Linked DNA regions of Homo sapiens. The protein of the gene in region 1 purifies or fractionates together with the protein of each later gene. This does not show direct contact. Each region holds a gene or a part of one and is shown on either strand. Other genes may lie near its edges.

Region 1 (3,752 bases):
ATTGATTTTTGTATGTGGTAAAAAGTGGGGGTCCAGTTTCATTCTTCTGCATATGGTTAGCCAGTTATGCCAGTAGCATTTATTGAATAGGAAGTCCTTTTCCCATTGATTGTTTTTGTCAGCTTCATTGAAGATCAGACAGTTGTAGGTGTGTAGCTTTATTTCTGGGTTCTCTATTCTGTTTCATTTGTTAATGATTCTCATTTTGTACCAGTACCATGCTGTTTTGGTTACTGTAGGCTTGTAGTATAGTTTGAAGTCTGGAAGTATAATGCCTCCAGCTTTGGTCTTTTTGCTTAGAATTGTTTTGGCTATCCAGGCCCTTTTTGCTTCCAAATGCATTTTCAAATGGCTTTTTCTGATTCTGTGAAAAATGTTGGTAGTTTGTATATAGGAATAACATTGAATCCGTAAATTGTTTTGGGCAGTATGACTATTTTAACAATATTGACCCTTCCTATCCATGAGCATAGAATGTTTTTCTGTTTGTTTGTGTTGTCTCTGATACAGTGTTTTATAATTCTCATTGTAAAGCTCTTTCACCTCCCTGTTTAGCTGTATTCCTAGGTATTTTATTCTTATTGTGGCTATTGTGAGTGGGATTGCATTCTTGATTTGACTCTCAGCTTGGACATATTTCTATGCATTTCATACGATTGAAATGCTGCTAGAAATGCTGATTTTTGTACATTGATTTTGTATCTTGAACCTTTGCTGAAGTGGTTTATCAGATCTAGAAGCTTTGGGCAGAGACTACAGGGTTTTCTAGGCTTATATTGTCTGTGAATATTGTCTGTCAAACATAGTTTGACTTCCTCTCTTCCTATTTAGATGACTTTTATTTCTTTCTCATGCATGATTGCTCTGGCTAGGACTTCAATACTATATTGAGTAGGAGTGGCAAGAGTGGGCATCCTTGTCTTGTTCCGCTTCTCAAGAGGAACGCTTCCAGCTTTTGTCAATTCATTATGATGTTGGCTGTGGGATTGTCAGAGTTGACTGTTACTATTTTGTGGTATGTACCTTTGATGTCTGGTTTGTTGAGGGTTTTTAACATGAAAAGATGTTAAATTTTATCAAAAGCCTCTTCTGCATCTATTAAGATGATCTTTTTTTAAAGTTTGGTTTATGTGATGAATCACATGTATTGATTTGCATATGTTGAATCAATCTTGCTTCCCAGGGATAAAGCCTACTTGATTGTGGTGAATTCATTTTTTTGCGGGGCAGGGGGGAGGGGGGGTGGGTATTGCAGGGAGCTCCCAACAGGAAACAATGTGGTGGATTAGCTTTTTGATATACTGCTGGATTTGGTTTGCTAGTATTTTGTTTAGGATTTTTGCATCTATGTTCATCAGTGATATTGGTCTGAAGTTTTCTTTTTCTGTTGTCTCTCTGCCAGGTTTTGATGTCAGAATGATGCTGACTTCATAGAATGAATTAGGGAGGAGTCCCTCCTCCTCAAGTTTTTGGAATAATTTCAGTAGGATTGGCACCAGCTCTTCTTTATATGTCTGGTAGAATTTGGCTGTGAATCCATCTGGTCCAGGGCCTTTTCTGGTTGGTAAGTTTTTTTTTAATTACTGATTAAATTTTGGTACTTGTTATTGGTCTGTTCAATTTCATCCTGGTTTAATCTTGGGAGTTTGTATGATTCCAAGAGGTTATCAATTTTGTGTAGGTTTTCTAGTTTGTGTGCATAGTGGTGTTTGTAATAGTCTCTGATTTTTGTTTGTATTTTTATGGGGTCAGTGGTAATATCCCCTTTGTTATTTTTGATTGTGTTTATCTGGATTTTCTCTTTCTTTAGTAGTCTAACTAGTGGTCTACCAGTCTTATTTATTCTACAAAGAACCAACTTTTGGTTTCATGGATCTTTTGTATGGTTTCCCTTATCTCCATTTTGTTCAGTTCAGCTCTAATTTTGGTTATTTCTTTTCTTCTACTAGCTTTGGGGTTGGTTTGCTCTTGTTTTTCAAGTTCCTCTAGGTGTGATGTTAGGTTAATTGGAGATATTTCTAACTTTTTGATGTGGGCATTTAGTGCTATAAACTTTCCTCTCAACACTGGTTTAATTGTGTCCCAGAGATTTTGGTATGTTGTATCTTTGTTCTTATTAGTTTCAAAAAACTTCTTGATTTCTGTCTTAATTTTGTTGTTTACCAAAAAGTCATTCAGGAACAGGAGCATGTACTAACAAGCACATGTAAGTGTGTGGTTTTGAGAGCTCTTGGTATTGATGTCTATCAATAAACTATTTTTGGATTAAGATATGTACACTGTTTTTATACATAATGCTGTCACACACTTAGTAGATCACAGTATAGTGTAAACATATCTTTTATATGCACTGAGAAACCAAAATATTTGTTTGACTCACTTTATTAGGGTGGCCTGGAACTGAATCTGTAATATCTATGAGGTATGCCTGTGCTATAATTTTTCCATGTGATTTAATGGAGTTTTCCAGAAGTGAAATGAGTTACCCAAGGTCATGGAGTTAGCAAATGATAAAGATGGTTTTTTAATTTTAATTTTAATTTTTTAGTATCTGCCTCTGTAAAGATGGGTTTTAAGTTTACATCGGATGAGTGTAAGGCCTGTGATTGTGACACTAGACAACTGTGAATAGTCAATAGCCTGCTGGCTCCTCCGACCTACCATCTGAATCCTCTGAATGTCTATATCAGGGTCAAGATGAAGGAAATGGTCTGACATTTTCAGACCATTTCTTTGTTGGTGCAAGTATAGCCTAAACATTATGAAGAGAGAATTGGTAATATTTATGCACAGATTGAATTATCTGTATTTCTACTTTTATTGGCTTTCCCAAGGAATAAATAAATAAATACTCAAGGATTTAGTTATCATTATGTAACTAATAGTGAATTTCTACAATAGGGAAAAACTGAAACCACCAAGCTTGTCAACAACTGGTGATTAATTGGCAGAGTAATCTACCAATCTATGAAATTTTTGAAAATATTTAGGAGTACAGGAAAATATTTATTGTAAATGTTAAACTTAAAAATAGTCACAGGATTATCCACTATATAAAAATATATATGTACATAAGAAAAAGTCTACTAGAATATATGCACAAATGTTAGCATAGGTTGACAAGATTAACAATTATTTTTAAATTTAATTGTCATTTTCATATTTTTACAAAATTTATGCACTAAGCATGAGTTGCTCTTTTATTAGTACAAGAGCAAAAAATGACATCTTGAAAAGAAATCTTTTTCTTTTTTTTTTCCTACGGAGAGAAGTAAATGATATAAATTGATGAGGGGTCCCAGGAATAGGACAAGGCCAAGAGTATATTGTAAAGTGGGAAGAGGCAAGGAAATAGAACTAGAGAAGAAAATGTTAGGACAATCTACAGGCTTTGCTTCTCTCCCACTTTCCCACTTTCTCATCCCAACCAAACAACTCTGGGAATATTCCTAGACCCAGTCAAGACTTACTCAGAGCCTCTCACAGTCAGCTCAGCTCCTGAAATTTCCCTTCCCATTATGCCCCTCTGCTAGCACTGTAAGGGTATCTAGAGAGAGTGCCTTGGTGATGGGAATAAGCCCAAGATGTATCGTGGCTCTGAGGCCCAGGAAAAGCTGTGGGCTTCACCATCTGGCATACCTGGCTCTGAATTCACTTCCTTTCAAATCTTGTTTCTACCACTTATTGGCTGTGTGGCCTTGGGCAAGTTGCTTAGCTCCTCGATGCTTCAGTTTCTGCATTGGCAAAATATA
Region 2 (3,652 bases), on another chromosome or scaffold:
GCCAAGGCAGGTGAATTGCTTGAGCTCAGAAGTTTGAGGCCAGCTGAGCAACATGGTGAAACCCTGTCTGTATCAAAAATCCAAAAAATTAGCCAGGTGTGATGGTGCACACCTGTGGTCCCAGCTATGGAGGAGGACGAAGCCAGAGGATTGCTTGAGCAGCCCAGGAGGCGGAGTTTGCAGTGAGTCGAGATCATGCCCCTGCACTCCAGCCTGGGCAACACAGTGAGACCCCATGTCACATAAAAATAATAAATAAATAAATATCCTAACAACTTATAACCACTCAGCAGTTCCATATTAAAGCAAAAGAAATGCACAGATCTGTCAGTTATGGATTTGCCAGAGATGTACTATCACATGTTATTGTTTTAGAGCTGGAGCTGGCAAACGTTTTTTGTTAACGGGGAAAATTATAAATATCTGGGGCTTTGTGGGTCATAAGGTCTCTAGCTTTCTGATTCAGCTCAGCCGTTACCGTCTGAAAGCAGTTACAGACAGTATGTACGTGAATGAATGTGCCAGGATTTGGCCTGAGGGTTGCAGTTTGCTGAATTCTGTTTTATTATTATTATTATTATTATTTTTAGAGACAAGGTCTCACTCTGTCACCCAAGTTGGAGTGCAGTGGCACCATCATAGCTCACTGTAACCTGTAACTCCTGGGCTCAAGTGATTCTCCTGCCTCAGACTCCCCAGAGCCAGGACTACAGGCATGCACCTCCACACCTGACTAATTTTTAAAAATTTTTGTAGAGATGAGGCTTGCTATGTTACCCAGACTGGCCTCAAACTCCTGGCCTCAAGCGGTCCTTCCTCCTTGGCCTCCCAAAGTGTTGAAATTATAGGCTTGAGCCACCACATCCAGCCCTGAACCCCATTTTAGACACTGATCACTATAGTTTTGAAAGACTCTGATACTCAAAAGAAGTAAAGAATTCTGTTTTATTCTAATTTGCATTTTTTAGCTTATATAATTCAGATTTATCAAAACTGGCATAAAACACTTATCTTTATAATATTTTAAAATGGGCTAATTGAACTCTCTACTTCCCCAAAGACAACTTATTGTAAAGAGTCTAAAGAGAGCAAATTACTGCTCGGGTTTAAGAGCTTTGTCCCTTTGTCCATTAGAGGCCTTTCATTCCTCTGCAGGTTTGTGCATACTGTGAGATTAGATCAGCATCTTACTAGGTTGGTGGAAGAGTAATTGTGGTTTTGCCGTTAAAGTAATGCGAAAACCGCAATTACTTCTGCACCAGCCTAATATTTGTGGACTTCCAGGAGGTGGCACAAGTTGAAGATATAAGAAAGTTTTCAAATGTTGCAACACCCCCCAAAAGTCTGCATTATATAAATCACTTGGCCTCATCCTATCATGAGTAATTTGGAGGTGCCTCCTATTTAGACCACCAGTGAAGATGATTTTATCTTGGTGTCTAGTGATCTAACGATTCTTAGTGCTAGTTCTTCTATATATTTAACCTAGAAAACGTTGGGCCCAGTTTTATTCCCTTGTGTCTGATGCAGTAATTTTCTCCCATTAATTCCTTTATTAAGAACCTAGTGTGAGTTTGGAACCCTGTGGATCCTAATTTTTTTTTTTTTTTTTTTTGAGACGGAGTCTCTCTCTGTCGCCCAGGCTGGAGTGCAGTGGTACAATCTCGGCTCACTGCAAGCTCCGCCTCCCGGGTTCACGCCATTCTCCTGCCTCAGCCTCCCGAGTAGCTGGGACTACAGGCGCCCGCCACCGCGCCCGGCTAATTTTTTGTGTTTTTAATAGAGACGGGGTTTCACCACGTTAGCCAGGATGGTCTCCATCTTCTGACCTCGTGATCTGCCCACCTCAGCCTCACAAAACCCTGGGATTACAGGCGTGAGCCACCGTGCCCAGCCTACCCTAATTTTTTAAATTTAAAATTTCCATGAAACATGTCTGATTTTTAAAGCAACTTTTAATCATAAAAATGGAATGGTTCAGTTTCTTGTTCTTTGAGCCAAAAGTCAATTTTTAAGGAGACTTTTCTTCTTTGCCTCAGAAATTTTTAAGAACTATGGCGCTGAAAAGTATGGACCTCATTCCGTTTGTCTAATTCAGAAATCAGCATTCGTTATGGAGAAGTGTGAGAGGAAGCTGAGTTACCCAGACTGGGGAAGCGGATGCTATCAGGTAAGCTTATGTTTGTTATTAGTTGTGCCAAATATTATGTGATTTTATCTCTTTTATGGTTTTGTATTTTAAATTATATTTTCATATTTTATGTCATTAATTTACTGATCAATACTGTATCTTGTTTATGTAAATATTAGTTTGGATGCTTATGTTTTATGAAAATATTGTCATTTCTTTAGAAAAAGTGCCTCTTAAAAATATATATGTAATTACTGTAATGTTACTTCTGGGCATATATTCTGAGGAAGTAATGGTAAATAGGTAATTTTGTTCTTGAGCAAATATTACTTTGTAATGGAAAACATGTCAATTTTATTTCAAAAGGTCTGAGGACCTCATGGGTTATAAGAATTAGTAAATCAGGCTGGACGTGGTGGCTCACGCCTGTAATCCCAGCACTTTGGGAGGCTGAGCCAGGAGGATTGCTTGAGCCCAGGATTCGAGACCATCCTAGGCAACAAAGCGAGACCCTGTCTCCAAAAAATAAAGGAAAAAGAATAAATCAGTTGCTGATTAATAATAGAGTGTTTTTTCCTTTGTAATTAGAAATCCAAAAAGGGCAAACTACAATTTTTTTTCCTTTTTCTTTTTCTTTTTTTTGAGACAAGGTCTTGCTCTGTCAGCTAGGCTGGAGTGCTGCTGCAGTCACGGCTCATTATATCCTCTACCTCCTGGGTTCAAGCGACCTTCCCACCTCAGCCTCCTGAGGAGCTGGGACTACAGTGTGCACCACACACCCGACTAAGTGTTTGATTTTTTGTAGAGAAGAGGTCTCACTATGTTGCCCAGGCTAGATTAGAACTTCGGGGCCCAAGCAATCCTCTTGCCTTGGCCTCCCAAAGTACTGGGATTATAGATGGCGGCCACCATGCCTCGCCTACTATTTCCTTAATTATCTTATTTGCACATCTGATATTATATGACATCACCTTATTAAGGACTTATAAAGATGTAGCCATTCTGTGACTTAGGAGCATCCAATGGAATGAATCTTCTGCACCCTACAAATGGATGTCAGGGAGGACAGCGTAAGCCTGAGAAATGCAGAATCAGCATTCCTGTGCCATTTCAGCTGCAAGAGCTAAACGGACCTTTAGAACTGGAAATTTAACTCTTATCATTAGTTACTTATCAAATTAACGTTTTTTTTGGTAACTGCTTTTCTTCTTTTCTGTTTTTTTTTGAGACAGGGTTTTGCTCTGTCACCCAGGCTAGAGACAATGGTGCGATCACGCTCACTGCAGCCACGAACTCCCAGGCTCAGGCGATTCTCCCACCTCAGCCATCTGAGAAGCTGGGACTACAGGTGCACACCACCACACCTGGCTGATTTTTCTTATTTTTTGTAGAGACAGGCTTTTGCCATGCTACTCAGGCTGGTCTTGAACTCCTGGGTTCATGTGATTCACCTGCCTCAGCCTCCCAAAGTGCTGGGACTACAGACATGAGCCACTTTGCCTGACCTGGTAATAGCACTAT

The links. Proteins that work in one complex are often made in the same cells at the same time.
Region 2: the proteins of WFDC11 (region 1) and LMLN purify together in Homo sapiens (affinity purification with mass spectrometry; one large-scale study listed by BioGRID and IntAct). This does not show direct contact.

What each region holds. Positions count from the first base shown.
Region 1 is NC_000020.11:45,667,990-45,671,741, reverse strand, and holds the start of WFDC11 (protein WFDC11 precursor), read left to right. Parts: upstream 1-1,502; 5' UTR 1,503-1,564; intron 1,565-3,752.
Region 2 is NC_000003.12:198,022,619-198,026,270, forward strand, and holds part of LMLN (leishmanolysin-like peptidase isoform 1 precursor), read left to right. Parts: intron 1-2,039; coding exon 2,040-2,170; intron 2,171-3,652. UniProt on the Homo sapiens protein: Metalloprotease.